Linked DNA regions of Homo sapiens: region 2 is linked to region 1. Evidence: fine-mapped QTL for protein levels in blood plasma. A gene starts in region 1. The other region holds a variant in brackets. All regions are shown on one strand. Distances are from middle to middle.

Evidence for each region. A credible set is the group of variants that fine-mapping cannot tell apart. PIP is the chance, under the fine-mapping model, that this variant and not a neighbour inherited with it causes the effect. The UK Biobank Pharma Proteomics Project read protein levels with antibody pairs (Olink). The fine-mapping took linkage between variants from a reference panel, not from the people measured, so its PIPs are less certain.
Region 2: its variant is the best candidate, but not a certain one, in a credible set for the plasma level of the GMPR protein (UK Biobank, PIP 0.85). The variant lies in the coding sequence of GMPR. If it changes the protein, the assay may bind it differently, which can mimic a change of level.

Annotation. Positions count from the first base shown.
Region 1 is chr6:16,233,018-16,242,962 of GRCh38, forward strand. It overlaps GMPR (guanosine monophosphate reductase), which reads left to right and starts at 5,570. Exons shown (of 9, transcript NM_006877.4): 1 at 5,570-5,763. The coding sequence starts at 5,677. RefSeq lists silencers at 5,353-5,452, 5,573-5,672.
Region 2 is chr6:16,287,213-16,295,212 of GRCh38, forward strand. GMPR (guanosine monophosphate reductase) reads left to right here. Exons shown (of 9, transcript NM_006877.4): 8 at 3,250-3,409; 9 at 7,794-8,000. The coding sequence ends at 7,974. Among named protein-coding and RNA genes, the nearest start is that of GMPR, 53 kb to the left of the region's middle. The variant T/A (reference allele first, on the strand shown) is at 3,318.

The sequences.
Region 1 (9,945 bases):
ACCTCTGAGGGGATGAACACCCTGCTAGGCCTCCCAGTTTTTAAAAGTAAGCTGGCTGGCCAGGTGCGGAGGCTCACACCTGTAATCCCAGCACTTTGGGAGGCCGAGGCAGGCGGATCACGAGGTCAAGAGATCAAGACCATCCTGGCCAACATGGTGAAACCCCGTCTCTACTAAAAATACAAAAATTAGCCGGGCATGGTGGAGCACACCTGTAGTTCCAGCTACTCCAGAGGCTGAGGCAGGAAAATCATTTGAGCCCGAGAGGTGGAGGTTGTAGTGTAGGTTGTCTATTCATGCCCTTAGCCCACTTTTTGCAATTGTGAATTGTGCTGCTATAAACGTGTGTGCAAATATCTTTTTCGAATAATTTATTTTCCTCTGGGTAGATATCTAGTAGTGGGATTGCTGGATCAAATAGTAGTTCTGCTTTTAATTATTTAAGGAATCTCCACACTGTTTTCCATAGTGGTTGTACTAGTTTATATTCCCACCAGCAGTGTAGAAGTGTTTCATGTTCACCGCATCCACACCAACATCTATTGTTTTTTTTTTTTTTTTCATTTTTCTTTTTAGGATGGAGTCTGACTCTGTCACCCAGGCTGAAGTGCAGTGACGTGATCTCTGCTCACTGTAACCTCTGCCTTCCGGGTTCAAGCAATTCTTCTGCCTCAGCCTCCCGAGTAGCTGAGACTACAGGCACGTGCCACCACGCCCGGCTAATTTTTGTATTTTTAGTAGAGATGGGGTTTCACTGTGTTAGCCAGGATGGTCTGGATCCACCTGCCTTGGCCTTCCAAAGTGCTGGGATTACAGGTGCAAGCCACCGTGCCCAGCCACCAACACCTAATGTTTTTTGATTTTTTGAGTATGGCCATTCTTGCAGGAATAAGGTGGTACCGCATTGTGGTTTTGATTTGCATTTCCCCCATCATTAGTGATGTTAAGCATTTTTTTGTGTGTTCGTTGTCCATTTGTATATCTTCTTTTGAGAATTGTCTATTCATGCCCTTAGCCCACTTTTTGATGGGATTGTCTTTTTCTTACTGATTTGTTTGAGTTTGTTGTAGATTCTGGATGTTAGTCCATTGTCAGATGTATAGATTGTGAATTTTCTCCCACTCTGTGGGTTGTCGGTTTACTCTGCTCACTGTTCCCTTTGCCATGCTCTTTAGTTTAATTAGGTCCCAGCTATTTATCTTTTTTTTTTATTGCATTTGCTTTGGGTTCTTGGTCACGAAATCCTTGCCAATGTCTAGAAGGGTTTTTCCAATGTTATCTTCTATAATTTTTATAGTTTCAGGTCTTAGGTTTAAGTTCTTAATCCACCTTCTTCTTCTTTTTTTGAGATGGAGTCTCACACTGTCGCCCAGGCTGGAGTGCAGTGGCCCAATCTCGGCTCACTGCAAACTCCATCTCCCGGGTTCAAGCAATTCTCCCACCTCAGCTTCCCGAGTACCTGGGACTACAGACCGGTGTCACCATGCCCAGCTAATTTTTGTATTTTTAGTGGGGACAGGGTTGCACCATGTTGGCCAGGCTAGTCTCAAACTCCTGACCTCAGATGATCTGCCTGCCTCAGCCTCCCTAAGTGTTGGGATTACAGGCATGAGCCACCTCACCCGGCCCCTTAATCCATGTTGAGTTGATTTTTGTATAAGGTGAGAGATGAGGATCCAGTTTCATTCTCCTACATGTGACTAGCCAATTATCCCAGCACCATTTGTTGAAAAGGGTGTCCTTTTTCCACTTCATGTTTTAGTTTGCTTTGTTGAAGATCAATTGGCTGTAGGTATGTAGGTTTATTTCTGGGTTCTTTATTGTTTTCCGCTGGTCTATGTGCCCATTTTTATACCAGTACCAGCACCATGCTGTTTTGGTGACTATGGCCTTATAGTATAGTTTGAAATCAGGTAGTGTGATGCCTCCAGATTTGCTCTTATCCCTTAATATTAAATACTATAATTCTGAATTATCAAAAAGCCTTTAATACTTAACTTTATTTCTGGGTTTTGAGAGATACTTATTTACTAAAAATAAACCATTTTATCACTTCACATAATTTTAGTTCACTGGTTAATTCTATTAAATATTTAAAGAACTAATCCCAAGCCTACACAAGCTCTTTCAGAAAACAGAGCGTGGAACATTTCCCAACTAATTCTATGAGGCCACTATTACCCTGATAAAGGCATCAAAAGAAAAGAAAACTACAGAGTAATGTCCCTTATAAGCTCAGATGCACAAATCCTTAACAAAATATTAGCAAATAGGATCCATCAATACAAAAAAGGATTATGCACTGTGACCAAGTGGAATTTATCCCACATAATTTTGGAGGTTATCTTCCCATGTAATTTTGGGGATAACCCTCCCCTCCCATAATAAAATGTTAATAAATTGAACTCTGGATATCACTTATGGCTTTGTCTAGACAGTGAAAACTTTAACATAAAGTCATTGTACTGATGGGAAACTATTATTGTTGTATTAGAGTAATGAGAAGCAGAGGATGTTGAAAGGAGTCTCAGTTGGTGTGGGAGTGGAACTGCCCTATGTGTTCTTCTTGCCTGCTGCATAGATAGAGCCAATTTACTGAGACAGCATTACTGCAATACAGAAAGAGTTTAATAAATGCAGAGCCAGCTAACAGGAGACTGGAGTTTTATTGCTCAAATCAGTCTCCCCAAAAATTCAGAGACCAGGCTTTTTTAAGGATAATTTGGTGGGCAGGAACTAGGGAGTGGGGAATGCTGATTGGTCAGGTAAGGGATGAAATAATAGGCTGTTGAAGTGGGTTTTCCTTGCTGTCTTCCGTTTCCGAGTGGGATCACAGAACTAGCTGAGCCAGTTTACTGGTCAGGGTGGTGCCAGCTGGTCCATCAGAATGGGGGGACTGACTGAAACATATCTCTAACACCAATCTTAGGTTTTCAATAGTGATGTTATTCATAGGAGCAACTGGGGAGGTTGGGAATCTTATGGCCTCTGGCTACATGATGCCTGAGCCATGATTTGTAATCTGTAGCTACTTTGTTAGTTTTACAAAGGTGCGCTGGTCCCCAAGCCAGGAGGGGGTTTGTTTTGGGAACGTGCTGTTCTCATCTTTGTTTCAAAGTTAAACTATAAACTCAATTCCTCCCATAGTTAGTTCAACCTACACCCAGGAATGAACAAGGACACCTTGGCGGTTAAAAGCAAGATGGAGTCAGTTAGGTCAGATTTCTTTCACTGTTGTCATTTTCCTATGTCAGATTTTTCTCACTGTCATAATTTTTGCAAAGCCGGTTTTAGAAGAATCAGGGACTCAGGCTGACTCTAACAGGAGTATGATTTTGTGTCAGAGAAGAGGGCAGTTATAGAGGAATGTTCCAGAGGGAGAGGGAATGGAATGTGTAAAATGAACTTCTCTGTCTATTCTAATAAAAGGAGGGCTAGCCAGAAAGAAAGAGAACCAGAGGGAAAGAGCAAGGACAACCTACAGAAGCTTCTCCTTTAAGACCATGTATGAAACAATGAATAAAGCCCTCATCCACGCTGGCAGATGCTTAACAAGGTCAGTTTCTCTTCCCTTTAAGGATAATAATTTAAAAATAATCATACCATCTAGTAATTATATTTTACCTCTATTTAATCTTTAAAAGATCAGAATTAGGTTTCCTTTCCGTACTTCACAAATAAGCAGCACATCTGGCCAGCTCCCAAGAATTCGTCAAGGGTTATAAACATTGCATGGGCTGGACTAATTGTGGCTACTTTCATTCTCTCTGATAAGTTTCATTTCCTTCCCTGAAACTTCATGAACTTCCTTTGGGGTATAGCTAATGAAACCATGTGGGATGGGCTGAGACCTTTATCATCTTCAGACATTTGTGTTAAATTGAATATTGTGATGTATCTTTTATGGTCAGCCTTATCACATGCTAGCTCAAGGAGAACAGTTGCTAGCTCAGTTCGAGGCTGCAGAAAAATGGAAGAGAATGAAAGATGATTCTTGCCTTTGTGCAGTTAGCATTCTAGTTTGAAAATACAAACACAATGCACATAATGTAACATGTGACTACAAATCTGTAACTACCATGCATTGAGCAACTACTATGGGACAGACATTGTGCTTACATAAACACACACACTTTAATTCTCACAAAAACCAGGGAGGAGATAGGGTTAACCCCCCCTCCTGCCCCCACCCCTTTTATGAGAAAACTGAGACTTAGAGAAATTGACTCCCCTAAGGTCACCTAGCTAGACAGTGGTGGAACCAGGTTTCAAACTCAGGCAGAGATGTTCCAGGACAAAAGCAGCTTCAGTGAATAGTTGTAGCAAGTTTTAAGGACTGAGAAATTTATATTGAATTTTTCTGCGGCCTTAGGCAAGTTATTTCATTTATAGAAGCCTCGTTTTTCCTTATCTGTGAAATGGCTCTTTCTTCATTGGGTTGTTCTGAGAGTGAATGAGATGATGCATGAAGCCCGGCAGCACATTTCAAATGTATAATAAAAGGTCGGTAAGGTCAATAAGTGAATCAATGAACTCACATCACTGGTAACCCCTCGAACTCACATCACTGGTAACCCTCAGAGGGGACTCAGGCTCCTCAAATCTCAGGATCTGCGTCGACTACAGACCTCACTGTTTTTCTTAAACAAAAATCCTGAAATCCAGGCTGGGCGCAGTGGCTCACGCCAGTAGTCCCAACACTGGGAAGCTGAGGCGGGAGGATTGCTTGAACCCAGTAGTTCAAGACCAGCCTGGGCAACACAGTGAGACCTTGTCTCTTAACAACAAGTCCAAAGGGAATCATGGCCTCCACAATCCCAGTACAGCTAAACAGTTAACTGCCCACGTTCTTTTCCTTAATTCTATACAACCTCCCTGGGGTTTCTGGTTCTTTGGCAAGTGAGAGACGTGCTCCTCAACACTGGGTGAGCACACCGGGCTTGAATTTTAAAAAAGGAGAATCCGCCGGGCACGGTGGCTCACGCCTGTAATCCCAGCACTTTGGGAGGCCGAGGCAGGCGGATCACTTGAGGTCAGGGGCTCGAGACCAGCTTGGGCAATATGGTGAAACCCCGCCTCTAGGAAATAATTTTTAAAATAAGCTGGGTGTGGCGGCGTGCGCCTGTACTCGAGGAGGCTGAGGCATGAGAATCGTTTGAGCCCAGGAAGTCGAGGCTGCGATGAGCGGCGATAGCGCCACTCACTCCAGCCTGAGCGACAGTGAGACTGTCTCAAAAAAAAAAAAAAAAAAGTAAAAGCTCTCAGGGAGCGACTTTTCCCTTGGATAAGGCAGCCACACGCTAAGTCCCCTCTCCATCGGGGACCCTGGGGACAAACAGAACGGTGCGCATTTCCCTCCCCCGTCCCCATTCGGTCACTGCCACGGGCTGTACACCTGAGGGGGAAGGACGGGGGCGGCGGCGCGAGGAGGAAGGGCTTCGCCGCCAATCTGTCCCTAACCAGTCTGCCTCTCAACCCCTGCCTGAGGCGGAGGCGGTGCCCGGGGCGGGCCAAGCGTGACCGCGGGTCGGCGGGGCGTGTTTAAGACCGCGGCGTGCGCACCCGGCCCACGCCAGCTCCCGGCCGCGGCACAGCAGCCCCGGCGCTCCCCGCGCCGCCCCGCGCAGGCGCCCCCGCCCCGCCGTCGCCGCCGCCGCAGCCAGGAGCCGCTGCACCATGCCCCGCATAGATGCGGACCTCAAGCTCGACTTCAAGGATGTCCTGCTCCGACCTAAGCGGAGCAGCCTCAAGAGCCGAGCCGAGGTGGGGGACGTTCGGAAGTCGCAGTGGGGTGGGATTTTTTTTTCCGGGTGGCGCGGGGCAAGTGGGTGGAAGGGGGTGGCACCGGGTTACCCTGCCTGCTTTGGTGTTTGAGACTGGGGCGCTGCGCCCCCGTTCCCGCGCCCCAGCACCTGCCAGGACGTGAGGTGTCTTTAAGGGCGGTGATACGGGGGCCCATGAAATTCTCTACACGTCGGTCCCGTTGGGTGGCCTAGGGGAAGTTCACAGTGAAACTCGACCACAGATGAGCGAGATCCAGTGGCCAGTTGGTTTAGAAGGAATAGGGGTACGAGGGCGCTTATAGCAAGAAAAGGAAACTGGAGCTAGGGGAGAGAGGACGAGAAAAACAACTGCAGATCCCGGTGATTTTTGGCTGCGTCTCCTAGTGCTGATAATTGCTGCTGCTTTCGCTTCGGGTCCAGCGGTGGAACTTCGTGAACGCGTCTGAAAAACCAGAACCCAGGGCACAAGTTCAGGGTTTCCTTTCTGAGTTTGGCGGCCTTGCTGGCAGTGGGGCTTGGGGACTCAGCGGTACTGGACAGCCCGCGGTCCCAGCCTAGCCCTGGAGAAGAGTTTCGAAAGCTTTGGGGTGAGAGAGGTGGGGGCGAATTGGAAGCCTCGGGCATTTCCCTGGTTCTGCCTGGATGTCCTCAAATCCTAAGGAACAGGTGGAGACCGGACTGGAAATAGCCTGAGGCTGGGGGAAGGGAGGCCAGTCCCTGAAGGATAAACTAGTTGCCTGAAAGGCAGAGTGCCCCGGGGTGGTGTGCGCTGGTGACTGGCTTTGCTGAGAGCTGGAGAGGAAGGTGAGGAAACCGGACACGGTTGAAGGCTGGGGCTGAAGGAGTAAACACGAGGAGGCTGGGCCAACCTGCACAGCTCCGTCCACTCAGCTCCACAAACAAGACCATAAATAAATCCCCTCAGCAAAGAAGTCCGCTGCCCACTCCGGTGCCAGGCCTAACTGCAGTGCCTGGGGCTGCCAGCCGAGGGCTTGCTTGGATTGGGGAAGCCTCCGCGTTAGCCAATGACTAAACCAAGTGGCCTTCTGTAAGCAGCAGCATTGGCTGGTTTGGAGCCCGGCAGGACTGGAGGACGTAGGGGAGGAATGATTAAAACTTATCGCCCCAGATTGGGTGACCCTGTGCCTGTCCCTCATGACCTTTCAGGTGCTAAAGAGGGGGCCTCTCTTGGAACAAAAACAGTTTGGAGGGCAGGCCTGGGCCTCTGGAAGCATGAGCTGTAGCCAATTCCTAAGGCAAGACCAAGATGAAATAGGGGGATTCTGGATGTGCTAATAATTTGGTGGCCTCAATATTCTTTAAATATTCAAAATGTATTTAGAAGAGAGAAACTCATTTTTCAGAAAATTGGATGTTCAAAACAAAGATATACCTATTTTCTGAACCAGAAAACATGTTGAGAAGGTAAAATATTGAACATTAATGTAATAGGGCCAGGCACAGTAGCTCACACCTGTAATCCCAGCACTTTAGGAACCTGAGGTGGAAGGATTGCTTGAGGCCAGGAGTTCGAGGCCAGCCTAGGCAACAAAGCAAGACCTCAGCTCTACAAAAATTTAAAAAATCAGCCAGGGCAGTTGTGCACACCTCTAGTCCCAGCTATTTGGAAGGCTGAGGCGGGAGGATGGCTTGAGCCCACGAGCTGGAGATTACAACAAAAATTTAAAAAATTAGGGCAGTGGTGCTCACCTGTAGTCCCAGCTACTTGGAAGGCTGAGGCGGGAGGATGGCTTGAGCCCAGGAGCTGGAGGTTACAGTGAGCTATGATGGTGCCACTGCACTTCAGCCTGGACAACCCTGTCTCTAAAGCTAAAATGAAATTTATGTAATAGAATGAATTACTCCTTCTCGGGGAATACTATCACATCATGCGACAATGTCATGCAACACTTGGCTTCATAATTTGGGCAGATTGTAACTAATGTTCCAGTTTGGGATAGCATCTTTGCAATCTTCATGTACACATTGCAGTGAGAACTCAGTGCCCTTGAGGAGTCTCTTTTGTATTTTTATGTTCGTGGGAGTTTGCCAGCCACGGGCCTGGAGACTCAGGTTAACCAGCATTGCCTTTCTAATCGGTTGCCGTGATGGTTTAGCTCCCTGATGCGTGAGGCTGCTGCCTGGCTGGCCACCCCCATGATCTGACTTTACTTGCCTCGGTGGCGTTGAGGGATCTAGTTAGGCCTCCCTAATCCCCTCTCAATGTTTTCTCAGTTTGCTTGTTGATGCCTGAAATTTTTCACAGGCAGATAAAAACTTTTCCTTGCACAATCAGAAGCTTAAAATATGTGCATCCTGGCAGAAGTAATATCTGGAGGCAAATTGGAAACTGAAGGGTAGATGACCGACATTGAGCCTAACAGCAGATTTGTACAGAGCCAGGAAAGAGAACGTACACCCTGGGAGTAGAGTCTGGCTGAGGGAGGAGGGTTTTGACAGCTGATGATGGGCTTATCCTCGTGACAGTTTTGCTAAGAGCCAGGCCCAGCAATGGATCATCAGGCTATAGCAGGAAACGGACAGTAAGAGTGATCTCCCCCTCAGAAGCTTCAGGACTCCTGCAAGGACATTTCCACCAGCCTTCCATAAATGAACATGAATGAGATGAATCTGAGGTCACCTCTGAGAGGCAAAGAATACAGGTAGCAGTGGCCCAGGTGGCCTTCGCCTGGATTCTCCAGGGAGGCATTCATCTCTCAAATGTCCAGCCCCTGGCATGGAAGAATAAAGCGCCACAGGGTCATGTGGGGACATTTGGATAATCTTTTTCTGAGAAGTGATGAGTTTGTGGATTGAGACAAGACCTTTGTTTTCATCTGTTACGCTGGGGAGCCTGCATTCTCCCTGAGTGTTTTCTTCCTTAGTACCCATTTCTGGCTCTAACATTCTACTCTAGTCCTTAAGCTAGTAAGAATGTACTTATTTATTTATTTATTTAGAGACGGAGTCTCACTCTGTCACCCAGGCTGGAGTGCAGTGGTGTGATCTTGGCTCGCTGCAACCTCCGCCTCCTGGGTTCAAGCGATTCTCCTTCCTCAGGCTCCCGAGAAGCTGGGATTACAGGCACCTACCACGCTCTGCTAATTTTTGTATTTTTAGTAGAGATGGGGTTTCACCGTGTTGGCCAGGCTGGTCTTGAACTCTTGACTTCAGGTGATCTGCCTGCCTCAGACTCCCAAAGTGCCGGGATTACAGGTGTGAGCCACTGCACCCAGCTGATAAGAATTAAAACAAAAACAAAAAATAAACCCCTAAAAAACTTATTAATAAATTATCAGGCATTGAAGAGAATCGCAGCAAATTACTCATTTTGTTTAAGGACAGAGAAGACACAACAGATGTTCAGTCTGCTTAAAACTTCATAGCAGTTTTTTCCCCAGCAGTCCCGTGAGAAGAGTTCTGGTCTAGCTTTCACCGTCTGCTACTGGTTGGCCTGAGGGGGATGAGAACATGGCAGAGTGGCTGGGAGGAAGGATACCTGTGTTTTAGTCCAAGCTCTGTCACTAATTACTTTTTTTTTTTTTTTTTAACCTTTGCCTGTATGCTGGTTTCCTGGGGCTGCTGTAACTGAGGACCACATACTTGGTGGCTTAAGTAACAAGAATTTATTATCTTACAGTTCTGGAAGGTAGCAGTCCCAGTCCAAGATGTTGGCAGGGTTGATTCCTTCTGAGGGCTGGGAGGGAGATTCTGTTTCTTGCCCTTCTCCCAGCTTCTGCTGGTTTGCTGACAGTTGTCCCCAATCTCTGCCTTCATCTCCACATGAGGTTCTCCCTATGTGTGCATCTGTGTCCAAATTTCTCCTTTTTATTTTATTTTTTATTTATTTTTTTTGAGAAGGAGTTTCGCTCTTGTTGCCCAGGCTGGAGTACAATGGCGTGATCTTGTCTCACCGCAACCTCCGCCTCCCAGGTTCAAGCAATTCTCCTGCCTCAGCCTCCCGAGTAACTGGGATTATAGGCATGCACCACCACGTCCAACTAATTTTGTATTTTTAGTAGAGACAGGGTTTCTCCATGTTGGTCAGGCTGGTCTTGAACTCTCGACCTCAGGTGATTCGCCTGCCTTGGCCTCTTAAAGTGCTGGGATTATGTGCCCTGAAATTTATCCTTTTTATAAGAACATCAGTCATATTGGACTA
Region 2 (8,000 bases), 53 kb after region 1:
CTGTCACTTACCCTTTATTGTAAGGATCATTGGCCAAGGGCATTTTTATGATTGGTTTTTGAGCTGAATCTACTTAATACAGGTGGTGGTCCATCTTGGACTCTTTTGTGTTGCCTCACACATGCTCTCTGTACAGAGGGAGAGCCAAACACACTTTAAAGTGACTGGTCGTTGAGAAGTGCCTTGTAGATCACAGTTCCTGGCCTTTGGACCACACTCAGCTCAGTCTCCTTTGGGTGCCATTCCCTCCTCCACTGTCTCTCAGTCAGTGCGGCCGTACCTGTGCCGAGACTCAGTGGAGCGAGAGGGACCTTGTCAGGGAAGGATGCAAGGGTGTCCCGAAATGAAAATGGTTGGGAACCCCCTCAAAGCATTCTTTAGTGGGTCTGTGCTCTGCGTTCCTGCTGTTGACATCTGCTCCTTTGCAGCTGCCGCAGAGGTGCTGTGCTCCTGAATTGTCAAGAATCCTGGCTGGACACCAGTTATCCTCTGCCTCCTTAAAATCATGGCAGGAGGACCAGGGAGTCAGCATTCGTGTTAGGAACCCTGAAAGGGGAGGGTCTTAAGAGGTTGCTGCCACTTAGGAAGGTTGCGTTGTGCTTTGCTTCCCTGAGTGCTAGAAAAGCTCGCCTTTCTGTCATGCTGAACTGTAACGCCAATGAAAACCTCAGAGTGCTCTGCCAATGTTTAAATGACCAAATTGAAGGCATCAGGGCCACTTTCAGGGGTTCCTATGTTTCCTCCTCCTGATTAGGATTTGCCAGGCTCCCCTCCTCCTTCATCCTATTACTTAATACATCTGCGCCCTGCTACTGTCTTGTTCTGTTCTAAAGGTAAACCCTCAGTAGGGCTTACTCAGGGGAGGCTGTAGTGAGAGGTGACAGCCCTCACAGCCCTCGCTTGCTGTCCACGCCTCCTCTGCCTGGGCTCCCACTTTGGCAGCACTTGAGGAGCCCTTCAGCCCGTCTCTGCACTCTGGGAGCCCCTTTCTGAGCTGGCCAAGGCCGGAGCCGGCTCCCTCAGCTTGAAGGGAGGTGTGGAGGGAGAGGCGCGAGTGGCAACCGAGGATGCGCGAGGCGCTTGCGGGCCAGCTGGAGTTCCGGGTGGGTGTGGGCTTGGCAGGCCCTGCACTCGGAGCGGCCGGCTGGCCCTGCCGGCCTCAGGCAATGAGAGGCTTAGCACCCGGGCCAGCAGCTGCGGAGGGTGTGCTGGGTCCTCCAGCAGTGCCAGCCCACTGGCGCTGCGCTGGATTTCTGGCTGGGCCTTAGCTGCCTCCCTGCGGGGCAGGGCTCGGGACCTGCCGCCCGCCATGGCTGAGCTTCCCCGCCCCCTCCACGGGCTCCTGTGCGGCGGGAGCCTCCCTAATGAGCGCCGCCCCCTGCTCCAAGGCCCCCAGTCCCGTCAACCATGCAAGGGCTGAGGAGTGCAGGCGCAGGGCGTGGGACTGGTGGGCAGCTCCATCTGCAGCCCCAGTGCGGATCCACTGGATGAAGCCAGCTGGGCTCCTCAGTCTGGTGGGGACGTGGAGAACCTTTATGTCTAACTCAGGGATTGTAAATACACCAATGGGCACTCTGTATCTAGCTCAAGGTTTGTAAACACACCAACCAGCATCCTGTGTCTAGCTCAGGTTTTGTGAATGCACCAATCCACACTCTGTATCTAGCTAATCTGGTGGGGACGTGGAGAACCTTTGTGTCTAGCTCAGGGATTGTAAACACACCAATCAGCGCCCTGACAAAACAGACCACTCACTCTACCAATCAGCAGGATATGGGTGGGGCCAGATAAGAGAATAAAAGCAGGCTGCCGGAGCCAGCAGTGGCAAACCCTTCTGGCTCCTTTTCTTTGGGAGGGTGATTTGTTGTTTCGCTCTTTGCAATAGATTCTGTTGCTGCTCGGTCTTTAGGCCCACACTGCTTTTATGAGCTGTGCTATTTGCCGGGAAGGTCTATAGCTTCATTTTTGAGCTAGCGCAGACCCCAACCCCACCAGAAGGAAAAAGCCTCAGCCGCGCCACCTTATAGAGCTGTTACACTCACAGTGAGAGTCTATGGCTTCATTCTTGAAGTCAGTGAGACCAAGAACCCACCAGTTCCGAACACAGTAGCAGTTCCTTAGTTAATAGGCAATGAAGAATCCCACTGCACAGTGATCCATGAACAAAATGGGGAATGATAACTTTTTTTCCCACGTTTTTACTTTTTTGACAGCTAATCATTCAGCGTCTATCATGTGCTGTGCACTTTGGATCAACATAGAACCAGCCCTGGGCCTGTTCCAGCATAGCCCACAAAGACAGGCAGCTTCAGTACCTCTGTCTCCTGTGCCTGTCCTGGAAATGTGCTGTCATTCGGTGATTAGTCTGGCAGAATATGTACTCTGGAAATCTAATGTGCAGCAGCATGGTGCGGGTGGAGTTTTAGACGACTTCCATAACACGGGGACTTCTTTCCTTGAAGCTGTCTAGTGTAGGAGCTTCAGTCTGTTCTGAGGCTTTTTCCTGATGTATAAGCACAGGGAGTGTCAGAGTGTGGAGAGCTTCAAGTACAGACCAGACACCTGAGGGGGTATCATAGAGGAGTCATAGCATTAAGTACAAGATTAGGTAACTTGCTTTCTAAGATACTGCCCAATTTTTTTTTTTTTTTTTTTTTTTTTTTTTTTTTTTTTGTGAGACGGAGTCTCCCTCTGTTGCCCAGGTTGGAGTGCAGTGGCATGATCTCGGCTCACTGCAACCTCCACCTCCGGGGTTCAAGCGATTTCCGGCTAATTTTTGTATTTTTAGTAGAAATGGGGTTTTATCATGTTGGCCAGGCTGGTCTTGAACTCCTGATCTCAAGTGATTCACCTGCCTCAGCCTCCCAAAGTGCTAGGATTACAGGGCTGAGCCACTGTGCCTGGCAGAATACTCCCCAATCTTAATGTTTCTGTGATTCTAAGAGAGTTAGATCTGAGGAAGGTGGTCGTAGTTAGCCATTAAAAGCCATTCAGCATGGTCCAGTATATGGGACACTAGCCTTCAGTAGGCTGCATTTGTTTCTCGCAGTGTCCCATGGCCCTTTCTCCCTGCATGGAAGCCTTCTCCCTTTTTCCAGGAGGAGACAGGCGAGAGAGGTCCAGCCTTTCTCTTGACTATAGCTGGGCGGGGAGGGAGGTGAACTGGGCAAGCACTGGGATTTTTTGAGAGCCTTTTCCCCTGAGCTGTTTTCTCTGCTACTCGCTTTCATCCCCACCGTTGGCATTTAGGAGCTGGAGCAGATTTTGTCATGCTGGGAGGAATGTTTTCGGGTCATACGGAGTGTGCTGGAGAAGTG[T/A]TTGAGAGGAACGGACGGAAGCTCAAGCTCTTCTACGGGATGAGCTCTGACACCGCCATGAACAAGCACGCAGGAGGAGTTGCTGAGTACAGGTGAGGAGGTGACCCCGGGGCGCACCCTCGAGGCCTGGCCTTGCTTTTCTTACGGAGATGGGATGGAAGCAGGTCTGAATAGCAGCTCTGTGTATATTAAAGTACCGTGGGAAGGGGTTCTTTTTAAAGACCCCTAATTTGTATCCAGTTAGCATTTGCAGTGTTTGGGGTTCCCAAAAGCAAGTACAGAGCAGCAGTGTTTGGTGATGGGTTGGAAGTGTGACCAGGGTTATATGTGAGTGGGTGCCAGTCCTGAAGGGAATACTTCAGACCTCTGGGGGTAGGTGGAATTATTGTCTTGTCCTTCCAGTAGAGCCTGTGCTGAGCTATCCCTGTAAGCTTAGATCTCTGGCTTGAGAAGAGTTCAGGCTGAAAGGATTGAGTTGAAGAATGGCTCTCCTCTTGCACAGAAAGCCATAGGTGTGGTCTAGACCACTGCACGGTGGCCAGGCCTTTCCTGAAGAATGCTGCATACAGCTCATACCGCTTCTCACCTTCCTCCAGGCTCCGAGAGCCGACACAGCAGCATTTTCAGCCATTCAGTTGTGTCATCCACTGTAGAAGTGGGGCTTACTTCTGCTGATGTGTGTTTATTTTTTATTTTTTATTTTTATTTTTTTGTGGTGGAGTCGTGCTCTGTCGCCCAGGCTGGAGTGCAGTGGTGTGATGTCAGCTCACTGTAACCTCTGCCTCCCGGGTTCAAGTGATTATCCTGCCTCAGCCTCCCGAATAACTGGGATTACAGGTACCCCCCATCATGTCCAGCTATTTTTTGTATTTTTAGTAAAGATGGGGTTTCGTCATGTTGGCCAGGCTGGTCTCGAACTCCTGACTTCCAGTGATCCACCCACCTCGACCTCCCAAAGTGCTGGGATTATAGGCATGAGCCACCGCACCTGGCTCCTGATGCATGTTTTTAATCCATGGTCTCCAAAGACACCTGGGTCTTTTCCTGATTCCCTTCCATTTTAACTGTCTGCATGTGTGTTTTAAGAACCTGATGATGGGGCCAGGCACAGTGGCTCATGCTTGTAATCCCAGTGCTTCCAGCAGCCAAGGTTGGAGGACTGCTTGAGACCGGGAGTTCCAGATGAGCCTAGGCAACATAGCAAGACCCTGTCTCTACAAAAAAATTAAAAATTAGCTGGGTGTGGTGTCACATGACTGTACTCCCAGCAGCTCAGGAGGCTGAGGCAGGAAGATGGCTTAAGCCCAGGAGTTGGAGGCTGCAGTGAGCTATGATCGTGCCACTGTGCTCCAGCCTGGGCAACAGAGTGATACCCTGCCAAAAAAAAAAAAAAAGAACCTGATGACAGTATACTCGCTGCCTCACCCTGCTCCATAGAGCCTACTGTTACTCTCATCAGGGTTAGCGCCGATGACAAGCTATACAAAATGGGTACAGGAGCAAAGGTTCTCCATCTGCAGAGGGAAGTTGCCTGTGAATCGGCTGGTTGCCTTTTTCCAGGAAAGTTCAGGCTTCTCCCTCCAATTTTCAGACTCTATCCGGTGCTGGAGTGGAAACCTAAGCCCTCCCTGACTGACACCCTTTATTTCCTACCACTCATTCCACACCCAGAGGGTCATTTTGAGGACCTGGGATTCAGATGTATTATATAAGGTTCATACCAAGCTAGCAGCAAAATCTCAGAACTCCACTGAGATTTGTAGGTGGGGGGATTGGGGGGAGTGGGGTGTATTCTACCAGAGTTCTATTCATCCGTGGGGTTCTAGCGGACTTACTTCAGTTCTCATTCTCCTCAAGTCTCTTTCTCTTGGTGGTGAACCCCAATAAAGATATTATAGTATGGGAAAAGCAGGATGGGAAAGATCGATGGGGACTGCACCAATCAGAAATGAGGGATTCACTCCTTCCAGGTAGCCCCCGAGGCCCTCTTTCCCCCAAGCGGTCCCTGATAGAGGAGGAGGTTGCATGGTTGGGTAAGGAGGAGGCACTAAGCTGGACCTATGTTCAAGAAGCTTCGTGCTTTACCAGCAACTGTTGTCATCATCCAAGGGCCTGCACATGTGTCCTCTGTGCCAGAATGTAAGTGGAGCTTTCATGGGTGAGCAGCAGCTAGGTGCTTTGCCTGGAGTACCTTTTTCACCCTCGTGGCTGCATCTGTTTTGGGTTCTTTAAAAAATTATAGAATCAAGAAGACCAGAGCAGGCTATGGCACAAACAGAAACCAAAGAGCTGAAAGAAAAAACGTCTTCTGTAATTTCAGCAGGGTTTAGGTATAATAGAAAAAAAAAGATTCAGCAGTAGCAAGACTCAGTTCTGAAAGTGGATTCAAATCTTTAACAGGGAAGGAAATTGCTGAGGAAATTAGAACCTTAATCCAAAGGCTTCAGCCTGAGCCTTGCGGCTGCACCTGTCTTACCTCTGTCTGAGTCTCTCTCTCTCTCTCTCTCTCTTAGTTTTCAGCCCGTGACCATGATCTTGTCATGAGAATGCTTCCCGACTTTGACAAATTACTTATGGCACAGTTATGTACACATTGCTGGTTCTTTCCCAATCATTATTTCATTCTCACGCTGTGCCCGGGAGGCAAAGTACCTTCATTTTACGGATGAGCAGACTTAAGCATCAGCAAAAAAGGAATTTGTAAAAGGCGACACCACCACTTAGCAGAGAAGCAACAGTGAGAATCTAGAAATTTCCAAGAAGCCCCAGGAAGGCCATGGAAATATCTTACGAAAATGAAATGTCAGTAATTGCAGGCACAAGTGTACAGACGCCTGTCTGGGGTCACGGAGTGCTGAGCCCTGAACCATCCTGGGTATGGCCAATGACTGGCTTCCTGAGCTTGGGGCTCTAAACCGGCTGATGGTTTAAGTAGCTGGATTTTACCCAAGGGTAGTCCTGCCTGTTCAGCAACCAAGAGTTAAGCCCCTTTTGAAATTCTAGATAATGAATGTCTGGTCAAGAGATGCTCTTCAAGGCAGGTGGATCACCTAAGGCCAGGAGTTCGAGACCAGCCTGGCCAACATGGTGAAACCCCATCTCTACTAAAAATACTAAAATTAGCTGGGAGTGGTGGCAGGCACCTGTAATCCCAGCTACTCAGGAGGCTGAGGCAGGAGAATTGCTTGAACCCAGGAGGCAGAGGTTGCAGTGAGCTGAGATTGCACCATTGCACTCCAGTCTGGGTGACAAAGGCAAAACTCCATCTCAAAAAAAGATGCTCTTTTTCCAGCTGAAAAGAACAGCTACAGAAAGTTCCAGAATTTGGGTACTTGTTAGAACTTGCATGGCCCTTAGATGAGAGCTAGAGTTTTGCCTAGATTTCAGATTTCCTTCTGGTAATACACACATCTGGTAATATACACATGTGTAATATACACATATTCTGGTAATATATACATGTGTCTGGACCACATCCCCATTTTGCAGTGAGGGGACATGACCTGTGTTACCCAAGTAACAATCAAGCAGTGTTACCTGGTGGCTTTGTGAAGAGAGGGACATGGGCTCAGTGGGGACAGTGAAATGTTGCTTAGTGTTCATGCCATAGGCCAGACTTGAGTTTCTAAATACTCCTCTGAAAATGTGAACGTTGCTATCCAAAGCCTGGAAGCCTCTGGTGCTAAGACAGGTCTTGGTTCTCCTCTGATTCCACCTTGCTTGGACCCACACATGTGCAGGGTGATAGGTGTAGTGACCTGTAAGAGAACAGGGAGTCGAACTGGGGGTGGCCAGTGTACCCAGCAAAGCAGAAAGACAGGCAGGCTATCAAAACAGAGCCACTTCAATGAAATCACCTTGCTGGTGATTTCCACGTAAGCTGGTAGGACCTGCGCTATCCATTTTATGTCCTCCTCGTCCTGGTCGTCCCCCTTGAAGACACTTGATTTCTGATCTTAGACCAGACAGGCGGGAGGTGAAGCTCTGGACTTTTCCTGTTGTTGACGTAGGAGGACAGGAGGCTGTTTCCAGGGGGGAATCGGCCAGGGCCATTCTGGGGGCATTTTGGGCTCCTGGTTGTTGGGAAGTTGGTGTGCATGTTGAGGTAGAATAGAAAGGTAAAGGTGGTTTCTGTTAGCAGCAGAGGGGAGCACGTTGCTGGAGAGAATGGCACCAAGCAGGGTGTTATGGGTCCCTGACTCCTTCAAGCGCTGCTCACCAGGACTTTCCTCTCCGCAACATGCAGGGCAGCCAGCAATGAGCCCGTGCCCTTTGGGCGGGAGGAATGTGTTCATCTGAGATGCTGGTGATCATCTTGGCACTTGGTAGAAATGTGGGGATGGGGTCAGAGGGTGGGGTCTGGTTTTCTGAGTGCCTTGGGGGCTACAGAAAGTGCTGGAGCTGGGAGTAATTCTAATTGGGCTCTTAAGGTGGGGCGGGAAACTAGATAAAAAGAAAACTTCTATCGTCTTCCAGAGCCTCTGAGGGTAAGACTGTGGAAGTTCCTTACAAAGGAGATGTGGAAAACACTATCCTGGATATTCTCGGGGGACTGAGGTCCACGTGCACCTACGTGGGGGCCGCCAAACTCAAGGAGCTCAGCAGGAGGGCAACATTCATCCGGGTGACCCAGCAGCACAACACCGTGTTCAGCTAACCCTGGGGACAAAGCAGCGTCTGGCT